3 separate regions of the Homo sapiens genome follow, and all the other regions are linked to region 1. The links come from fine-mapping of genetic effects on gene expression. A gene starts in region 1. Each other region holds a variant in brackets. All regions are shown on one strand. Distances are from middle to middle.

Region 1 (10,693 bases):
TCCCGTGCTCCTGGGGAGCCAAAATAGCTCCTCCTCCCACTTCCTGGGCATGAAATGCTCCCAAAAATACCCACATGCATGTGATGTGGCCTCACTCCAGGTGTCACTGGAGGAGAGGGAGGGAGGGAAGGGGCATTCGGCGTTCTGAGCCTGGCTTCAACCCAGCTCTCCCTGCCCTCTGCCCCCCGCCTACCCCTTCCGGCTCCATCACACGGCACTCAAGACCCTAAGGAGCATCTGAGGCTCTGGGTCCCAGGAGTGCAGGTGTTTGGCCCAGGATCCTCCCGGGAAACTTCTCCTCCCCACGACTGGCAGCTCCCAGGATCTCTTGCCCATCTCCAAATTCCAGCACCACCCACTGTGCTCACCACCCAGCCAGCCACACCCCTGGGCCAGCCCTGCCTCTCCCAGACGAGCTGTCTCTCACCCTGTCCTCCGGGAAGGCCCCTGAAGCCCCTCCTTCCTGCCCTGAGGTGTTGAGGCTGGGAGGGCGGAGTCCCTCGAGCAGCTGCAGCCCACAGCAAGGCCCCTTTCCTCCACAGCCTCTGGGTTTGTCCACCCCAAGCCCACTCCCCACGGGCGGCTCTTTTGTTGCCCTGGGTCCCTGGTGGATCAGGGTCCCCGGCTGAAGGAGGCCAGATCCACACCCCACACTCAGCGCAGGGCTGGAGCCGGTGGCTCCCCCTGAAGCTGGAGGGCCCTGGCCTGGCGGGTGGGCTGCCCGGGACCTGGCCTTGCCCAGCTCAGAGGCTCCCTCCAGCCAGGGGTGAGTGCCGCTGACCCGGCTACCTGGTGCTGCTGACTGCATGGTTGGGACCATGCTGGGCCGCAAGAGATCAGCTCAGAGCGGGCCCCATGTGTGCCCTGGGGCACCATGAGATCTGGGCACCGTGTGACCGGGCAGCCGTGGATCCCAGGACCCCAGGGCAGGGCCTGGGGCACAAGCATTCGCTCAGCTGCGGCAGTACCTCTGCTCTGCTCCCAGGGGCCCACTAGGCTGACCTCCCAGGCGCTGGCTTCCCCCGGCTAGATGCTGGACCTCTCTCACCCAGTGGAGGAGGGGAACGGGTTCAGGGCGCTTCCCAGGCGAGGACACCCTCCACTCAGCCCAGGTCCTGCCCCAGCTCTGGCAAACGGCAAGGGTCTACATCTTGCTTTGCTCACGCTTTTCACGTGTTGTTACTTTTGGAATATCAAAATCCAGCAGGAAAATGACAGCGTGGATGGTGTCGGCACTCAGACTGAATCACTCAGCACATGTAACTATTAAGTTTGTGTTTGAAGGTTCTGGGTGGGTGCTGTGGGCCGGATCCACACATGCGGTGTGGCAGAGCGCTGCCCTCCTGCTGGGCCCATGGGGGACATGGCCCCCTGGCCACACCCCACGCCAGGACTGAAGGCCAACCCCAGGAAACCCTGACAGTGCTTCCCAGACCCTTTCCTGGCCCAAGGCAAGGAGGATGCCTGGCACCCAGGAGGGCTATGGGCAGATGGGACCCAGAAGATGGGAGCAGGGTGGCAGTGGAGGCCTTGGCAGGGGCTTCCAGAGAGGCTAGAGCTGGAGGTTGCAGCAGGGCAGCTGCCTCCTTTCCCTGCTGTCTGGAGTGACCCCGCAGGGTCTCAAACCCAGTGCCACATGGTCCTCACACAGTCCTGCTTTGTGCTCCTGGGGTCCCTGGCCTCACTGGGGCTGGGGATGGAGCATCTGAGGAGCAGAGGGCTGGCTGGGCCGGGGGTACCATCCATGTCCAACCGGCTGGCACAGGCCCCACAGCCAGGGCTCGGCCCAGCCAAGCACTCACACTTCTCCAAGCTGACCTCTGGGGGAGCCCTCGTTGGAGCTCCATCCTGCTCCTCCCGGACTTGCTCCACACCCCACCTCCTCCTTCTCCCAACATCCGCCTGGACGGGGTGGCCTCCAACTCTTCCCCGGCCTGCAAAATGTTTTCCCTGCCTGGATCTTCAACCTGGCCTTCAACCTGCTGGCCCCTTTCTCACTCAGCTCCTGCCCCTTTCCAGCCGGCTGGAGGTCTGCGGGGCTTCTTCTCCAGGGCTCAGGGCCTCCTCTGGGCACTCGAAGGGCCAACCGCACCTGCCCTGGTGTGGCCAAGTGGCCCGTGGGGGTTGGCAGAGGCCTTTTGCCGCGTCACCACCTTCTGCCACTGGAACGGAGCCTGGGTGGCTCCTGGCCAGCAGCCTGTGACTCCCATCCCAGCTGGGCAGCCCTGGCCTGGCTCACACACCCTGAGTGGGCACCACCCTGAAGCCCTCCAGCAGATGCCCACTTTCCCTTCCCCTGGCCCAGCTCACACACCCTGAGTGGGCACCACCCTCAACTCCTCCAGCAGATGCCCACTTTCCCTTCCCTAGGCCACTTGTCACTCTGACCTGGGGCTGTCACCAACCTTGTCTATTTCCCCCAAGTTGTGGCTGGGCCCCCCCACCCCCAGGTTAGGGCCTAGACAAGTGTGAGAGCTGAGAAGCAGTCACTGCATGTGTGGCTGGATGTAACAAGTAACAACAGGGACAGGCAGAGACAGAGAGAGACGGACACAGAGAGACAGAGACAGACACAGAGACAGAGAGATACAGCGACAGAGAAAGAAAAGACAGAAAGACAGAGACAGAGATAGAAAGAGACAGAGAGACAAAAAGACACAGAGACAGATACAGTGACAGAGAAAGACAGAGACAGAAAGATAGAGACAGAGAGACGGGCAGAAAGACACAGTGACAGAGAGATACAGCGACGGAGAAAGAGACAGAGAGAGAGGCAGAGGAAGACAGGGCAGAACGTGAGGGCTGGCAGAGGGTCTCTGTCCTCTGTGCCCCAGGCCCCAGCTCCAGGTGTGCTTGGAGCTCAGGCTGGCCTGGGTTGTAGAACGGGGAGGGGTCAGCCTAGGAGTCCAGTGCTTCTGCTCGGAAGAACGGGCACCTCCCTGCACTCCTGTGCAGACTGTCCCAAAGGCACCAGCATATCCCTTGCATGCAGCTTGTGGAGGTGGCAGGGTCAGTCATGAGCCTGGCTCTGGGCTCAGGGGGTCACCCCTGGGGTCCTCTCTGGGGTTACTGTCCGGGTTAGCTGTTGGGTTATCCACCCAGTTAGGGATGGAGAGAGAAAGCACCAGGGCCGAGAAGTGACCTCTTTCTTGGACCCGAACATCTCACCCTTGCTGTCCCCTCCCAGGTCCTGAGGAGACTAGAGGAGCAGATGGAGCAGAGCAGGCTGGGGCTCAGGCCGGGCCCCCAGGCATGTGTCCTGCCTCCTGTCCCTGGGCCCAACGTTCTGAGCCCACTTGGCTCAGATCCCGGGAGAGAGGAAGGGACGGTGCTGGGGGTGCCCATGGCTTCCAGCCAGGGAGGCTGAAGAGACCCCAATCCTAGGGCATGGGTCCCCCTCTGGGAGGTTGCCTGTGAACCCCCAGGCCCACGGGACCCTCATGGCTGTCTCAGGGAGCCCCCATGGGCTTGGCCCTGGTGCCTTCACCCTTCCCTCTCCCCCAGCGCTCCCTTCCTCTGCGAAGGGTCCCCTGCCAAGTCAGCAGAAGAGTGGGGACGGGGGCAGAGGCGCTGGGGCCAAGGCTGGGAGTCCAGGCCTCTGAGTCCTCCTGAGCTCAGGCTAAACACGGGGCACCGGAGGGGATGGGGCTGAGGGCGGGGGAGGGGCCGCATCTTCCCTGCGCCAGGGGAGTCCCCAGGACTCAGCAGGGAGGGGACAGTGACAAGTTAGTGCGGCGGCCACCGGCAGCGGCCCCCCTCCCCCCTCCCCACCCCCACCCCGCCAGGAGCACAGGGCAGCTCTAGGGTCGCGGTGCGCCCCATCCCTCCCGCCGCCTGGCTCCCGACACTGCACAGCGCGAACCGCAGGGCCGACCTTGCGGCGACCCCGCTCTCCCGCAGTGCCGCGTCCGCTGCAGAGGAAATCCCGGGGGCCAGGGGAGGGAGCGGTGGGGTCTCTGGCCTTCGTCCCGGTAAAGGAAACAGCGACTCCGTTACACCGAAAGTGAGCCCGGGCCGGCCTGCGGGTCTCTGGCTGCGAGGGGCTTGCGTGGGTTTTCAGGGGTCTGGGGGCCCCCTTCTCCCGCCCTGCGATACGGGGAGGTCGGGGCAGAGGGGTCGGGGCGGCGGGCGGCGCTCAGGGACACGGTCACCGGAGAATGGGGGCGGCAGCGACTCCCAACCCCTGGCCCCTCCGCTCGGGAGGCAGCGACTTCTCCGCCCGAGGGTTTTGCACCCACCGGCCCCGCGCGGACCCTGTAGGGAGCAGGCCCGCACCGTCGGGCTGGGGGCGGGGGGGCAGAGCCGGGGGCGCCCAGATCAGGGGCGGGCGGGGGTCGCAGGCGCCCGCCGGGGGAAGGTCGAGCCCGGGCCGGGTTGGAGGGAGGCGGGGGCGCGTCACTCGGGTCCACCCCCGCCCCCGCCCCCGGGTCCACCCCCGCCCCCGCCCCGGGTCCACCCCCCGCCCCCGCCCCCGCCCCCCGCCCCCGCCCCCGGGTCCACCCCCGCCCCCGCCCCGGGTCCACCCCCCGCCCCCGCCCCGGGTCCGCCCCCCGCCCCCGCCCCCCGCCCCCGCCCCCGGGTCCACCCCCCGCCCCCGCCCCGGGTCCACCCCCCGCCCCCCGCCCCCGGGTCCGCCTCCGCCCCCGCCCCCGGGTCCACCCCCGCCCCCGCCCGGCGCCCGCGGCCCCGCCCCTCGGCGCTCCCCTCCCCGTGCTCGTCACGCTCGGACGCGGGCGGGGGGCGGGGAGCGCCTGCGAGTGACGCGCCCTCCTCGCGGTGCCCTTCAGCCGCCGCCGCAGCTCACCGGGCGCCACATGGACCCAGCCGGCCCGAGCGCGCCCCGCCGCTGACCGCCCGCGCCCCGGGAAGGTAACCGCGCCCCGAGCGCAGCGCGCGCCCGGCCTCCGCTCCCCGGGTCTCCCCTCCCGGCCCCGGCGTCTCCTCCCCGGCCCCCGCTTCTCCCCGCTTCTCCCGCCGGCCCCGGTTTCTCCTTCCCGGCCCCCCTTCTCCCCGCGGCCCCGGCTTCGCCCAGCTCCTCCCCCCGGCCTCCGCTCCCCGGGTCTCTCCTCCCCGGCTCCGGCTTCTCCCCCCGGCTCCGGCCTCTCCCTCCGGCCCCCGTTTCTCCCCCCGACCCCGGCTTCTCCCCGCAGCCCCCGTTTCTCTCCCGGGCTCCGCGCGCGCGGGGTCCGGGGCGGGCGCTGTCCACTGCCGCGGTGCTGAAGCGGCCCCCGCGGTCCCGGCCCGCGCCCGGCCTCCTCCTCGCTTCTTCCTGTCTCGAGGCTCCCCCTCTCCTCCCTCGCCCTCTTTCTTTCCTCTCCTGGCGCGCTCCCGCCTGAGGGCCGCTCGCCCGCCCGCAAAGCCGAGGGGTGCGGGTGCGGCGGGGCCGGAGCCCTGCGGGTCTGCGGGGCCCGGCCGTGCCCTCCTTCCCCGCGCCGCGGGAGCCAGGGGAGAAGTTTGGAGGAGAATCGGCGCTGCGGCAAAGCCTCCGAGGGGCGCTCCCCGCCCGCCGCCCTCCCAGTCCCCGCGCGAGTCTCCTTCCTCTGCGGAGGGCGAGGGGTGAACCGTCAAACAGTGTCTCTCCAGGGACCTGGGGTTCCCCGATAGGAGAGACCCCGCAAAACCGGGGGGCTCACTGCGGCTGCTGTGATTTCAGAAAGCGGCTTCCCAAGAGGGGACCAGAGCGCCCCACCCCACCCCATGCACGCCCCCGGGGCGGGGGTGCTCTGTCCCCGTCCCCACGTGTTTCCTGAAGGCTGAGCCCCCTGAAGTTTCTCCCCAACCCCGATCTCTTCTACGCGGGCCATGTGGGGGGCACACTGACTGCAGTGCCGTCAGGGATAGGGTCACCCAAGCCTCCCTGGTCAGAAGCCACAGGAGCCCGCCCTGAAGGGTACCCGCTCAAAGACCCACCCCCAACCCTTCTCCACGGCCCTGGGCTCGGGACCACCGCGGAGGCGCCGCTCCAGACACTGAGCTGCAGAGCGGAGCAGTCACCTTCAAACGCCCCCTGGGCCCCGCCCCTGCTTCCGCAGCCTGGCGCCAGGCGCCTCTGAGCGATGCCCCCTAAGCCATCAGCAGCCCTCCCTGCAGAGGCTTCAGACACCCCAGGAGCTGGGGAGACCATTTTCAGGTCCTCTGGGGTCCTGGTTTGGGTGTGGGGACAGAAGCCCCTCACGAAGGACTTCCCAGGCAGCCGCTCCAGGTGGGGGAGGGTCCAGCCCACAAGGTATTGCGGGTAAGGAATGATGGTCTCTGGGGAAGGCCAGGCAGGGGCCTGCTTAGGGTGACCTGTGACCACTTCACTCTCCCCCAGGAAGAACACTCGCTCCCGGCCATACTTGCGTGTGAGTTCTGACCCCTGGAGGAGCCACTGTGGAAGCAGAGCAATCGCCATGGAGTTTGTGATGAAGCAGGCTCTAGGAGGTAGGAAGCGGGAGGTGGGGTGGGGAGGGGCTGAGGGGACATGGAGAGACCACCACAGCAGCTGCTCCTCATCTGGCCCACCGCAGCAGCGCCCCTGCAGCCACACGGCCACCCACGCAGCCCTGCACAGGAGCCTGGGGCAGAGGAGCAAGGACCGTGCCCAGCAGCGCCCCCAGCCCGGCCCTTTTCGAGGCCCCGAGCCAGAACTGGTGTTCCTGGCGGGACAGGGGCTGCCCTGTAAGCTCACTCTGCCCCACTGCTGTGGTCGGGGCAGAGCCCATGGACCATGCTGATGCACGTCCTGGGGGAGGGTGCACACTCTGGCGTAGGCTTTACAGGGCCAATTCTAACTGGCCAGGCTGGGCAGCCCCCAAGGGGGCTTCCTTCCAGATGAGGAGAGCCAAGCGGTGGGAGAGCAGGATGCAGGTGGCAGCCTCAGGGACAGGCGTGGGGACAGAGCTGGCCTGTGCATCTGGCGAGGACCCTGTGGGTTTCACTTGGGTGAGGCAGCGCCATCCTCAGGGACCAGGGCTTGCTGGTTACGGGAGCGAAGGAAAAGGCCCGAAACAGCTTGTGTGTCTCGACTGCCTCCCAGGCGGGACGTGCAGCCTTTTTTGTGTGTACTGGGGTGGGGCCAGGCCCCCTTCCAACCTGCTGTCTGCTATTTGAAAGGAACCTCGTCCCCACTTGACCCAAGGCTGTCATTGTGGCCAGAGACCATGTCAAGAGCAGTGGCTGGGTTCCTAGACCAGGAGGTGGGCAGGGCCTGGGCCATGCTGGTACAGACGTGTCCCGGCAGAGCTGATGGGTCAACTCAGGCCTCGGGGCTGTCGTGGCGAGTCTCAGTTTTGCCCAGAGCCGTCCATCCTGTGTTCCCCCAGCACCAGTGCCCAGAACTCCTGTGAGGGGAACCTGTGGCCGGTGCCCGATTCTACCACTAGAGACGTCTTGCTTGGGTGGCCTCCACGGGGGAGCACCCTCACCTGATGCCATTCACACCTTGGAGTGAGTCAGGCCTCCTGGGAGCATTTCTGCAGTGGGGGAGCTGGCCGGGTTCGAGGGGCCAGGGACAAGGGTGTACAGAGGGCAGGCGCCGCTTCCCCCAGGGCAGGAGCTGCCTGCCTGGCTGTCTCCCGGAGGGTGGCTGTGCTTCCACTCAACACAAATTAAATGAAAAGATATTGAGCCTGTCCTGGGGCCACATCCCTGAGATTTCGTGGTCAAGGGTAAGAGTCAGGTTGAGTCTAATTATAATGGCTGCGTCACCGGGCTGTGATTCAGGGACAAGCCTGCATCTGCGCTGGGAGGGACGCACGTTCCACCCAGGGAGTCCCAGGCTGTTACGGATAATTAATTAGTTGGCTAATTCAGGCCCTGAGGTGGGCTTGTAAGAAACTGAAATATCTTATTTGGCTGTCTACATGACTGAAATTAGCTGGGTAATTACCAGCCTGAATTCCCTTTTTGTTTCATGGCAGCCCAAAGTTTCTCCAGCAGCAGCAACCGGGCAGGCGTCGCTCAGCGTGGTGGAGCTGAGCGGGGGCAGCCAGCAGACCCTGGGGGGGCTCCACGCTGAGTGCTTCCCAGAGCACCCCACATTGGCTTTGCAGAGCACGTTGAGGCTCGGAGCCAGAGCTGCTGAGGGCGGGAGCTGGTGGGGGGCTTCCAGTCGAGACCTTGTTTTCTGCCTCTGCGCCTCTGTCCCTCACCCGGCGAGCCTCATTGTTGCTGTCTCAGGATGCGTGTGAGTGAGACAGAGCAAGACAGAGATGGGAAATGGGGGAACCTCCAGACAGCACGACAGAGCTTGGCAGAGACCCCAAGAGAACTATTGAGAAACAGACCAAGCCCCGGACACAAAGAAGCTGGCAGGAGAGGGAGCAGGAGGCACCCAGGAAGCCGTTCAAAGAAAGGCGAACCCAGAAACAGGGTCGGGGAGGGGGAGCTGGAGAAAGAAAATGACAGCCCAGAAACAGACAGAGAAAAAGACAAGAATGTGTTATTCAGCACGCACAGGGACAGACAGGTGAAAACAGAGACGGCACGTCAGAGACAGAGGCAGAGGGGAGAGAGAGAAAGAGGGAGAGACGGAGACAGAGATAGAGGGAGACACAGAGACAGAGGGAGACAGAGACAGGGAGAAACAGAGACAGGGAGAGATGGGAGCAGAGGGAGAGACAGAGGGATACAGAGAGACAGACAGACAAAGGAAGAGGGCAGAGAGAGGCAGAGGGAGAGGTGGAGGCAGAAGGAGAGAGAGAGACAGAGAGAGTTAGAGAGATAGAGATGGAGACAGAGACAGAGGGAGAGACAGAGATGGGGAGAGACGGAGAATCAGAAACAGAGGGAGAGACAGTGGTGAGAGGGAGAGACAGAGACAGAGGGAGAGACAGAGACAGAGGGAGAGACAGTGGGGAGAGAGACGCATTAGAAATGAACTGCTAAGAGGAGTCAGGGCCAGGAGCGCAGGCAGCATGGCACATGCACACGTGCACGCCCGTCAGAGGGTGCAGCAGAGAGGAGGAAGAGGTGAGGACCTGCCCAGGGCTCTGGGCAGGGGGACAGGCCTGGTTAAATCAAGACCATTCGGGGGCTGTCCGCGGCAGGCTGGGCCGCAGGTGTGAGTCTTGCTGAGGAGTGAGTGGCCCAGGGCCTGCTCATCTGACCCAACGCTGGGTCTCAAGGAGGGGCCCCTGTTGGGGCCACCAAGGGAAGGGAGCATGGTGGCTGCCGGGGTGATCGCTCGTGGGGGAGCGGGAGGCTCCTCTGCAGCAAAAGTGGCCTTGAACTGGGGCCGGGCCTCCCCCCACAACACGTGGGTCCGGATCCAGGGTCCTCAAGGGAGTAATTTAAAGAAACTGGTTTCCTCAGGCCAGAAAGTTGCAAACACGGCCTGGGAGCTCTGTGGACAGCGTGGAGGAACGTGGCACGTGTGGGTGCCGTGGTCACTGCAGACCCTCATGGGGCTAAATGTGGCAGAAGCGAGCAGCCACCCGCTCTCCCATCCTCCGCCTTGATGTGACACACGCCCTGTTTAAACACGCTCAGGTCCTCGGGAATGTGTGGGGCAGGCGGGCCGGGGCTTCAGGTGGGACACGGCTTGGAGGATGCATGTGCGGAGAGGCTGGGGTGCAGAGTGGGAGGCAGCCGGACACTCAGGAGAGCCTCTGACTGCCCCAGCGACAGAGCCCAAGGCAGGACTCACCCATGCTCGGCTCTGCCACGTGTGGGGAGGTCTAGCGGGCAGGTCCAGTGACTCCGGTGGTTCAGTCACGATGGACAGTGTCCGGCAGTGAATGCCCCTCACCCAGCCAGGCCCAACCTGGGGGGCGACAGCCTGGCCTGGGTTCAGTGGAGAAGCTGTCCTTGTCCCCGGAGAGTGGTACGCTGTTGGGTTCTGTGTCCAGTCCTACATGGGGAGGGAAGCAGGTGAACATCTGGGGAGAACACACCGTAGGGGTGCGGTCCTGGGTTTGGCGTGAGGGGGAGGATTGTGGTCATCCAAGCCGGGGTGGACGAGAAGTGTCTCGTGGACGGCCCAGGCAGGAAGTGCAGGGTTCCACCGTGTGGGAGAGCCCCTCCGCGCCCCCGTGGGGCTGGGCTGTGAGTTCTCGGCAGGAACAACCCAAGGGGCTTGTGGGGGCCACCGGTGTCCACCTTGGGGGTTCACGCGAGGCTGGTGAGGGGTGTCCACCTTGGGGGTTCACGTGAGGCTGGTGAGGGGTGTCCACCTTGGGGGTTCACGTGAGGCTGGTGAGGGGTGCAGTTGGGAAAGAATCTCCCTCTGTGAGCAGAGACCACCAGAGCCAGGAGTCCAGGCCAGGGATGCCCTGAGCCACAATGCAGCCAACACCAGCATCTCCCCCAGCCCTCCACGGGGATGGAGGGGGCACCTCCTTCCTCCTTCCCGGCACCAAAGTGGGGCTCAGCACTCACCATCTGGGACCTCAGGCAGGGCCATGGAGGCAACTGGGATCTGGGCAATCCTGCCCTGATTCCCAGTGTCCACCCCTGAGACTTACACCATGGGCAAGGTTGGGTGTCCACCCTGTCCCAGACAGAGGTCCCTCTGGCTCTCCTGCCTCTCTCTTCTTGCCCAGTTTGAAGCTCAGCCTTCTCTGTTTATTAGGGACCCCACAGGCTCCTGGTGGTTGAGGCAATGGGGGATTCTGCCAGTTCCTGCCCCATTGGGCCACTGATCAGGCTCTCTGGACCTGGGAGGACGATGGAGCTGCAGGCTGGGCTGAGCTGGGTCCGGGAGGACGGTGGA
Region 2 (5,000 bases), 63 kb after region 1:
TACAGGGCAGGCCCGTGCCAGTTAGGGGGATGACGTTTCTGCAGGGGGTGCAGGCGCAGGCACAAGCTCCTTGCAGTGGTGGGCTCCCATCCCGCCCCTATCTGGCCTGCAGCTGCCCTGAACCCTTTTTCTCTTGACAGGCCCCATCACACCCTGTCTACCACACCTGCCGTACTGAGCAACGGGAAGAGGTGGTTTGCAGCCCCATGAGCAGCCCTGACAGCTCCGGAATCGGGCACCCTGGTTCCCCAGGTGGCACAGGTGCCTGAGAGGCCCATAGGGCCGAAGTGTTTCCCTCCCCATCCCACCCAGGCCCAGTCCACACCAGCCCCCTCCCACGGCTGCAGCCTCCAGGGGCACCCTCTCCCCACAGGCCCTACCTCCGGTCCAGGCTGTCCCTCCCTCTCACCATAGTGCAAAAATGCACTAGGCTCCCCAGTCTTTTAAAAAAATTAGACTTTTTAAAGAACAATTTAAGGTTTACAGCAAAATTGAGAGGAAGGTACAGGGAGTTCCCGTCCCCCTTGGAACCCCCCTGCCACCAACACCCTGCATGGGGGCACATTAGTCACCACCCAGGAACCTGCACTGACATCACCTCCACCGAGTCCAGAGCGGATGTCAGGTCGCCCTGGTGGCACAGCCACAGGTGGACAAACAGCAGCATCGCCGCCCAGGAGCCCTGTGCCCGCCCACTCCTACTACCCTCCTCAAGCCCCTGCAGCCTCCGGATGGTTCTGCCTTTTCCAGTGCGCCATGCTGCAGAGCTGGAGTCGCACGGCCTACAGCCTTTTCAGAGGGGCTTCTCTACTTAGTAACAGGGACTTGATGTTTCTCCCATGTGCCTGCTCTTGGCCCGACTGCTCATTTCTTTTCAGTACTGGATAATAGTCCAGTATGGATGCACCACGGTTTATTTTTCCACTTATCTACTGAAGGGCATCTTGGTCGCTTCCAGGTTTTGGTAATTATGAAGAAAGATGCTATCAACATCCGGGTGCAGGTTTTTGTGTGGGCAGGAGATTTCCAGTGGGTAAATGACGAGGTGTGGCTGCTGGGTGGTTTGCCGAGAGTGTGTTTCGTGTTGTCAGCAGCTGCCAAGCTGTTCTCCACAGGGCCTGCGGGTTCCACTTCCCACAGGAATGAACCTGCGCTCCCGGCGTTTCCCGAATGTGTTGTCAGTGCTTGGGATTCTGGCCCTTCTATGGGGTACGCGTGGTGCCACGCAGTTTTCCTTGCGTTTCCCTGATCATGTAGACAGTTCTTCAGATTCCTCCCTGGGGAAGGCATGAATTGAAGCAGCCCCACCTGCCTGAGTGGCTGGGTTGGGGGCTCAGAGGCACGGTTAACGCAGCAGCAGCGCAAACCTCACACTCTTCCCTGGAGGAACCAGCCCTGCGCTGGGAAATGGCCAACCTCTTCCCCACCCCCTGCAGCCCCACTGTCCGGCAGCTTCCCGCTACACCTCCACATGAAAATCCAAGGACTTCCTCGGCCTGCTCTGTCCCCAGCTACCATCCATCTTTTCTGTTTCGCTACACAGAAAAGCAAACAAAACGATAGAAACTTAGCAAAAAGCGTTGCCCCATTTCCTTCTCTCCCTTCCCCCCGTGTCCTGACTTGGTTTCTCCATGATCTCCAGGCAGCCCGTGCTCAGTGAGTCTCCCCAACCCCGGTGTGCTGTCCGTATCCCCGGCCAACCTGTGGGACACTCAAGGCTGGCATTGGCCCCCCATGACCTGACAGCCTCTGCTCTGTGCCACCACAGCAGCTACGCCAGCCTGTCCCGAGACACCACCCCCCACCCCAAACCGAGCAGCCCCAGGCCTGCAGTCATTCCTGACCCCTTCCTTTTCTCTGCATCACCACCCAAATACATCAGCAACTTATTGTGGCTTTCTCTGAATTAGTCTCCTGCGGCTGCCGTGGAAATTATCACGAGGTGGTGTCTTCAAACAATAGAAATGTACTCAGTTCCAGAGTCCATAACAGCCACACTCCCTCTGCAGGCTCCAGGGGAGAAGCACAGTCCATTCCGTGCTGCTGCCACAGAACACCACACACTGGGTGATTTATGAAGAACAAATTGATTTCGGCACAGTTCTGGGAGCTGGGACATTCAAGGTCACCACGTTGCCACCTGTGAAGGCCTTCTGCTGCATCCTCATGTTGGGGAAGATCAGAAGTGAGAACACATGCTGGCCAGTCCTTTCACAGCAGCATCAATCCGTGCATGGGGCAGGGCCCTCGGCCTGAGCGCCTCCCC[C/G]AGGCCCTAACTCCCAGCACTGCCCTGCTGGGGATGGAATTTCCAACATGAATCTGGGGGATGCTTTCGGACCACAGCCGGGGAGCCTGCCCTGGCTTCCAGCTGCTGGTGGCCCAGGGGCTCCCTGGCTTGCCTCGAGGCTGCCTCCCTCCAGCCTCCAGTCCGTCCTCTGCTCTGTCCTCACCAGGGCCTCCTGTCTCGAGTCTTCCTCCGCCTCACTTGTGTCATGGGATTTAGGCTCCACCCAGATATTCCAGAATTATTTCATCCCAAAATCCTTTATTTAATTATATCTACAAAGATCCTTTTCCAAACAAGATCCCATTTGCAGGCTCTGGGGGTTAGGATGTGGCTTATCTTCTGGGGCCACCACTGAGTCCACTGCTGCTACAGACAGCATCTCAAGTCTGTCCACTTCTCCACCCTGACCGCCCCCACCACAGTCCGCCTCTCCTGCAACTCCTGGCGCTGGCCTCTCCTGCGTCCATTTCTGCACAGCCTGAGCGATTTTCAAAAACGACACCAGACCCATGCTCCTGCCCACAGCCGCCAGCGCCTTCTGTCTCCATGCAAAGCTGGACCCTGCTGGCGCCTGCATCCCCATGGTGTCACTGCCTTGGGGGCTCACAGGGACCCACACTGGCATGTTCATGGTGCGCCCGCTGCCAAGGCCGCCTCATGCCAGCACTCCTTCGTCTCCTTACACACCACAGCCTGGAAGGGTCCTCCCTCTCTGCATCCGCCCATGTCTCCCCTTGTGAAATTAAAGCACAGAATTTCTCGTTTTGAGGAAAACCTTTATCCTATTTTAAAACAGTCTCATCATCCCCGCCCTAGTTCTCTCTTCCACTCACAGTAGCATTCCACGTTCCCTGTCTCTGGGCATCCTACAACCCTTAGGGCTGTCTCCTATCCCGCTCCCCGGTGAAGCAGGCAAAACGGATTTTTTTCTGGTTAAAATCTCCAAAATTGTTAAAAACAAAACAAAACTAAGCAAAGAATCTTGGAGTTACCTTTAGAAATAAGAGAGGACTTGTTATGGTTTCTACTTAGGGATCAACTGTTACCTCGTTAAAGGATGAAAGGTTGAGTTTTTTGGCGATGAACTTCTTCAGATGCAAGACGGTCGCCTGGGCTGAGCAGCGGATCCACTTCCGCTTCAGCCCGCGCAGTTTGCTGCTGTTACACTCCAGGCAGATGCTCACCTGCGGGAAAGGACGCTGGTGAGAGCGCAGCAGGAGGGTTCCCCCGGACGGTTCTGGAGGCTTCCTTAGACATATTTCACTAATTCCTCAATCTAGGACTGCTGACCTTTTTGAGATCAGACATCTGCTTTGACTTCAACACTGCAGAAAAAGAATCTTACATACCTTATCTGAAAACCTGTTTATCGTCTGCTTGCCATTTTGTGAACTATAACCTCACCCTGTTAATTCTGTGTTATTAACATAATAGTTGAGAGTTAATCCCACAGTTACTTATCCATCGCAGGCACTGGGTTCTTGGTCTCCAGCTAAGCCTGTCCGGACAAACATGGCGCAAAGGGGAGTGGGCGGCCCCGTGTCTGCGAATGCACTCGGGGAGACAGCAGCGACTGCAGGAAGACAGTAGGGAGAAGCCTTGAGCAGGGCCACAGGCGGAAGGTCACAGCTGCCTTCCAGGTGACCAGCAGTTTGGCCGCAGGATAAAAAGTGACTGTTAAGGGGACTGTGGAGTCCCAGCAGCCACGGGCTCCCTGCCCGGTGCGAAAAGGAATCTGCCCAGGACGAGGCTTCACCCAAGGGCCCGGCCGGCTTGGCCCCCAAGATGTGCCTGACAAGGAAGGGCGACGCTCACGGCAAACGCTTCTACAGGTGGAGCCGCAACAAACGGCACAGTTAGGGCCTAAAAATGCAGTGGAAGAATGGACAGGGGGTTAACTGAAACATGTATGTCTAAAATTACAAAAGATACAAAAGGGAGGACACCAGGGGTACAGACGGGCAAGTATTGAAGGTAATCAGATACAATTTCTAAAAATAAAAACACTCACGGAAACTAACATCTCAGTGGATGGCTGAACCACAGATTCTTCTCAGCCGAGGACAGATTAATGTCCTAAAAAAAAATTCACTTGAGGAAGTTACCCATCAGGAGTAGAGATAAACACACCAATTCAAACAATAAAAGGAAGGCTAAGAGAAAGGGGAGAAGACGGGAGCCCCAAAGGGAAGAACAGAAAGGAAAGGAAGTGTTAAGAAACAGTGACTAAGGATCTCCCACAACAGTGAAGGGCAGTCCTCAGATTCAGGAAGCAAAAGAATCCAAAATACAAGAAATACCCACTCCGACACGGTGCAGTCACTGAGCACAGCCCATTAAAGGCCCCGCAAGAGCCACTGGGGAGATAAGTGGATTCTGTGCAAAAAGCAAGAGACATCCTTGCTCCGGGGTGGGATGGAGCGAGGCCGCCTGCAAGCATCACAGGAGAGGGACAATGTGAGCGGGAAGAAGATCCGGGAGTCTGGAGAGAGAACTCGGGAGAGAGGCCGTGGGGAGAAAGACCCGGAGTCCGGAAGGAGAAGAACTCGGGAGAGGGGCCGCGCGGGGAGAAAGACCCGGAGTCCGGAAGGAGAACAACTCGGGAGAGGGGCCGCGCGGGGAGAAAGACCCGGAGTCCGGAAGGAGAACAACTCGGGAGAGGGGCCGCGCGGGGAGAAAGACCCGGAGTCCGGAAGGAGAAGAACTCGGGAGA
Region 3 (5,103 bases), 38 kb after region 1:
CCCGCCCTTGTCCTGCATAAGCTTCCAGCCACCCATGTTGGGCAGCCCACACCTGGGCCTTCCTGCACGGGCCTTCTGAGGGCCCACTAGGCTCCCTCAATACATTGCATCCCCCTACCCCCCGCAGCTCCCACAGCGGCTAGGAGGTGTCCACCTGGTTGCTGAATGCTGGCTGTTTGGTCCTATCATTCCTATTGTTGGTTCTCAGCATTGATTAGCACCCACTGCCCTTTTTTCTCACGAATACCGTGTTTTCAGGGTTCAGGGTCTCACCTCAGACGTGTCAGGGCCTCCTGGGCGCCCCCAGCAGCCACTCCCATCCTCAGGTGTTACTTCCTGGAGAGCTGCTGCCCAGCATCACGGTGGGCCTGGGGCTGGGTGTGCCTGGGCGTTTGTCTCTGGAGCAGACGCCTCAGAACTGGGTCTCAGCCAGACCACGTGGAAGCCAGGCTCTGGTGTGCAGCCCAGCCCCGGAGCCTGTTTTCCCGGCAGAGTGACCCTGGCCCTCAGGCCAAGTCCGGCGTGACCTCAGCCTCAGAATGACCTGGAGCCTCACTGCAGCAACTGGCACTTCAGGCCAAGCTCCGAGTGTCCCACAACCTGGTGGCAGGGCCTGGGGTCTCCTTCCTGGGCCCAGAAGGAAGGATCCCACACCGTTTGCAGACAGGGTCCCACAAGCCCCAAGGGTCACTCCCCTGACCTGGGAGGTTCCTTTGCTCACACAACTCATGTTCCGCCGTTACAGGCATGCTCCTCTGAGCACACACATGTTCCTGAGTGCTTTTGCTGTGGGCAGCACAGCCTCCTGGGCTGGATACACATGTTGCCGCCACATGCACAGACCCCCACACCCCTGGCTGGAGGGAGGCTCTCTGGCCGGACCTAGCTTCCAGTGGCATCGCTCTCCCCAGCACACCCCTGGCCCCACAGGACGAAGAGCACATGCTCCCTCCACTTCCGTGCCTGGAGCTGCTGCCCTTCCCGCTGTGGATGGCTAGGACGAGAACCAATCTGCTCTTGCTGCCCCACAGGGTCAGGGCTTTGTTCTGGGCCTGCAGGGCCCTCTGGGTGTCGCCCCTGTTGTGCGGAGAACGTTCCTACCCTGTGCTCTTCGTTTCACTGAGGAGACCCCTGGAGTCCCGGCTCTGTCAAGAGTGCGCAGGGGCTGCTGAGGACTAGGGCGAGCCCACGGCCCCTCTCTCCTCAGTGGCCAGGTGGTGGTCTGGCCACAGGCGGCTGGGAACGTGGCGCCCTCCTTTCCATCTCACTGAAGGTGGCCCTGGCCCCCCACACCCAGAGCCACCTGCAGCCCTAGGGGAGGGGAGAGGTGCCGAGACTGCCCTCGGTGGGGTTGGGGAGCACACAGGCAGCCCCCCCTCCATTTGGGAGGAAGGAGGGGCCTCCTTGGAGATCCAGGGGGTGCCCAGCACCAGGAGCAGAACCAACTGCTTCTATGGGGAGGGGCTGCTGAGACAGGAGCAGGAGATGGCAGGGGAGGGGCTCCTCCTGGGCAGAAAGGCCCCTCCCTGTGGCTGGTGATCCCGCGGTGTGCTCCTCCGTCCTGTAGAGTGCTGGTGCCCACTCCCCTCCTAAGTTTTCTCCTGGACGCAGCTGCTGACGCCTTCACTACTCCAGAGCACCTGTAATCTCAGATCCAGGACCTTGGACCTGGCCCGGGGGTCCTGTTCAGGGGATGGAAGTCCAGCTCCGTACAACACCAGGCCCCCAATCCTTCCAGGCCAGCCCAACCCCACTGGTTCCCACCTTCCTGGGCAGCAGGAGGCTGTTCCGTAGTTCCGTGGCCTGACCATGACCACAGGCTTCCTGGGCTGGTGGCTCACGGGAGGGCTGGAGGAGTGTGGCGTGGGGAGGCGTATTGATCTAGAAACCAAAACCCCGGGGCCTGACAAAAACTTAGAGGCCTGGAGGGCAGAAGAACAAAATCCCACACTCCCTCTGGAGGCTCTGGGGGAGGGCCCTTCCCTGCCCCTTCCTGCGTCTGGCGGCCCCGAATCCCTGGTGTTTCTTGACCACTCGCGACCTCCTCCGCTTTCGTATGCCCGCCCCCATCCGGGTGTCTGTCCTTTCTGTCTCTTACAAGGACACTCTCACTGGACTTGAGGCCCCTCAAATCCAGGATGGCCTCGTCCCCATCCTTACCATTATGAGATCAACAAAGACCTGTTTCCGAATGAGATCACCTTTGAAGCTCCAGGCAATATGAATTTGAGGGGGACAATATTCAGCTACTACGGAGGGCAGACGCACTCACGGGAGATGAGAAACGCGGGTGGGCAGGGGGTCGGTGAGGCCCAGGCATACTGGCTGAGGGCACGACTAGGCGGGATTCCAGGACACCCAGTGCCTGGAAGTGACCGCAGCCCAGGACCCTCTGCCGGCTGCCCACGGAGCTGCAGCGGCCTGCCAGGGAGTGGCCCTGCTGGGGCCGCGGCCGCATCCAGGCAGCCTTGGCCAGGCCCGGGAGTGTGAATGCAGGTCGTGGACCAGGCACTGGGCAGGAGGGTCAGCTGCGGGTTGACTGTTTCTCCCCACCTCTGCCACGCAGCATCCTGCCCACCCCTCCCTGCCCCGG[G/A]CCGGAGGCTTCCTGGAAGGCAGGATGCCAGGGGCTGGGCTGGGTTTGGAGCCAGAGGTGGGGCCACAGCCCTCTCTCCTCTCAAGGAAGATGGGAGCCTCCCCCTCCCTGCTCCCCCCCATGTCAGCTCCTGGCCCCCATTCTCCGTGGGGGCTTCCCATTCCTCCAGGGACCCCCCGGGGTGGGGTCTCTTCTCCTTCTGGGGTCCTTGTGTGCCTGGTGGGGTAGGGGGCCGCACCCACGCCTTCGGGGGTTCCTGGGCCAGTCCCTGGCGCAGGGAGGCTGCGGCCCGCCCGGGAGCCGCCGGGACCCCCGCCCTGACCCCCGCCTCCCCCGCAGTACGGCATCAAGAAGAAGGAGGAGCGCGAGGCCGAGGCCCAGGCCGCCATGGAGGCCAACTCCGAGGGGAGCTTGACGCGGCCCAAGAAGGCCATCCCGCCGGGCTGCGGGGACGAGGTGGAGGAGGAGGACGAGAGCATCCTGGACACCGTCATCAAGTACCTGCCCGGGCCGCTGCAGGACATGCTCAAGAAGTAGCCGCGCGCGGGACAGCGGCCCCGCGGAGCCCCCGCCCCTCCCCCTACAGATCCTCCGCGGAGGCCCCTGAGGGACGAGCAGAGCGCAGCCCCCACGCCGATATAAGCCATAGCCCCAGGCCCGCCCTGCCCGCGCCCGCCGCCTCCCTCACCCGGCAAGGGGCGCGCGCCCCCAGGACCCCCCCAGTCCGCCCCGTGCTCCTCTGCCCGCGGGTGGCTGGAGCCCCATCGCCTGGGACGCCCCTTTCTCTTGCTGTTTACCGCCCACCCAGCAGCGCCCGAGGCCAGGGCCGCCGAAGGGCAGCCCCGCGACCACCCCTGTGCGCGCGTTCGCGGCGGTGGGCGCCTGTCGGGCCCGCACTCAGGAGCACAGCCATAGCAGACGGGGGGCTGCGGGCGGGGCGAGGGCGGCGGGGCCTGGGTCCCCCTCCTGCACGCGGACTCCGGGGTTCGGATCGCTCCGCCGTGAGTATTTGCGTCCGCACGCGGCCGCTCTCCGCCCCCCGGCCTGGCCCCCTCGCGCCCCTGTCCATCCGTCTCTGTCCGCGTCCTTTCCTCTCCTCTCTGGAAGGTTTTGCTTCTTACGAACGCCACGGCCGTGTTCACTTCTAAACTAAAGGAAACAAAGCAATAGGTTTGGGGGACGCCCAGCCCCCACCCCCGTCACCCCGCTCTTCCCAAGTCCTCGCCCCCCGCCCGGCCTCCTAGCCTCTCCGCCCACGCGGCTGCTGCTTCTCCCTGGGGAGGACCCCTGCCCTCGGCCATTGAACACTGCACCCTCCACAGGAGCCGCAGAGGCCCGAGGCACCGGACGCTGGAGACCCTGCGCCCCTGCCCAGCACCTCCTCCGTGGGCAGCTCCTCGGGTGGGGCCTGCGGGGTTCCCTGCGCGCAGCTGGCGCGTGTGTGGCCTAATCCACCTGGTGGCCCTGCGGGGCGGCATCCGAGCCCCTGTTTCTCCTCCATTCATGTTTAATTTGCATCACAATTTGTTGAATCTCAGGTAAATGAGGTCTTTGCATTTAATGAGTTTTATCTTGACAGGCGCCGCCTCGCCCCCGGGCCCTTTCGTCCACATCAAAAATGCATCAAGTCTCCACGTGTTTCGGGCCAGGGCGTGGCTTGGCATTGACCTTCATGACCTTACATAGCTTTAGAGAAGCCATAACGTTAGACTGCAATACTAACGACCGACGCCCCTCCGGGCAGAGACCACCGCGCCCCTCTGCGCCCCAGCGACGCGGCCCGCGGGGACGTCGCTGTCCGTCCTGCTCGCCCTGTGCCCTCTCACTGACTTCTCCCGGGTCGTGTCTTTTAAAAACTCCTGTTTTCACACCTTACAAAGCCAGCTCTGAGCAGACAGGGCGTCCTCTCGTAGAACCTGCGCACCCCGTTCCCAGCGCATGGCGCCCCGGGCCGCGAGCTTAGCTTAGACCGTGGTGTCCTCTGTCCGTCTGTCCTGCGCCTGCGCCTCCTCCTGCATGTCGGGGCCCCTGCGTGTGTTCTCTCCGGATGGAATCACAGCCAATAAACACCAGTGATTTCACACCGTGTGGCCATTCCTTCCAGAGGTCCATTTCGCCAGCCGGAGGACCGGGGCTTTCCCCCGCGCATGTTCTCTCCACGGCGGCTGCAGGGCCTCCCACCATTCTCACTCAGCTCCATCCAGTCAGACCCATTTTCCCTAGGCCGTCCAGCCAGCGCAACCTCCATCTAAACACAAACCTGCGCCTTCAGGGTCTCCCGCCCCCCAGGGTGGTTCTTCCACCCGCAAAGCATCTGCCCTCTGCTCTCCCTCCCACCTAGGACCCCCGACCACAGGCCTGTCCCTCTCCTCAGCTCCACCGGGCCCAGGGCCCCAGGTCACCCTGTGCTGCCCTTACCTCGGCCCACCCAGGAATTCCTGCCCCCCAGCACCCCCGTGGGACTGTCCCTCCTCCTGAGTCCTGGACCCGGATCCCTGCAGGGAAATGTC

The links. PIP is the estimated chance that this variant, and not a neighbour inherited with it, causes the effect.
Region 2: its variant is the best candidate, but not a certain one, in a credible set for the expression of CPLX1 in whole blood (TOPMed, PIP 0.86).
Region 3: its variant is the best candidate, but not a certain one, in a credible set for the expression of CPLX1 in whole blood (TOPMed, PIP 0.50).

The regions. Positions count from the first base shown.
Region 1 is chr4:820,222-830,914 of GRCh38, reverse strand. It overlaps CPLX1 (complexin 1), which reads left to right and starts at 4,786. Exons shown (of 4, transcript NM_006651.4): 1 at 4,786-4,869; 2 at 6,314-6,423. The coding sequence starts at 6,393. RefSeq lists enhancers at 1-440, 441-958 and a silencer at 4,767-4,816.
Region 2 is chr4:759,750-764,749 of GRCh38, reverse strand. It overlaps PCGF3 (polycomb group ring finger 3), which reads right to left. Exons shown (of 11, transcript NM_006315.7): 9 at 3,334-3,471. It overlaps LOC124900163 (chloride intracellular channel protein 6-like), which reads left to right. Exons shown (of 2, transcript XM_047416474.1): 2 at 2,010-5,000. The coding sequence starts at 4,703. PCGF3-AS1 (PCGF3 antisense RNA 1) reads left to right here. Exons shown (of 3, transcript NR_171661.1): 3 at 141-4,307. Among named protein-coding and RNA genes, the nearest start is that of PCGF3-AS1, 20 kb to the left of the region's middle. The variant C/G (reference allele first, on the strand shown) is at 2,267.
Region 3 is chr4:784,528-789,630 of GRCh38, reverse strand. CPLX1 (complexin 1) reads left to right here. Exons shown (of 4, transcript NM_006651.4): 4 at 2,933-4,674. The coding sequence ends at 3,130. It overlaps LOC105374339 (a long non-coding RNA gene), which reads right to left and starts at 1,857. Exons shown (of 4, transcript XR_925032.4): 1 at 1,765-1,857; 2 at 274-1,668. RefSeq lists enhancers at 1-168, 675-1,174, 1,175-1,676, 3,649-4,520. The variant G/A (reference allele first, on the strand shown) is at 2,594.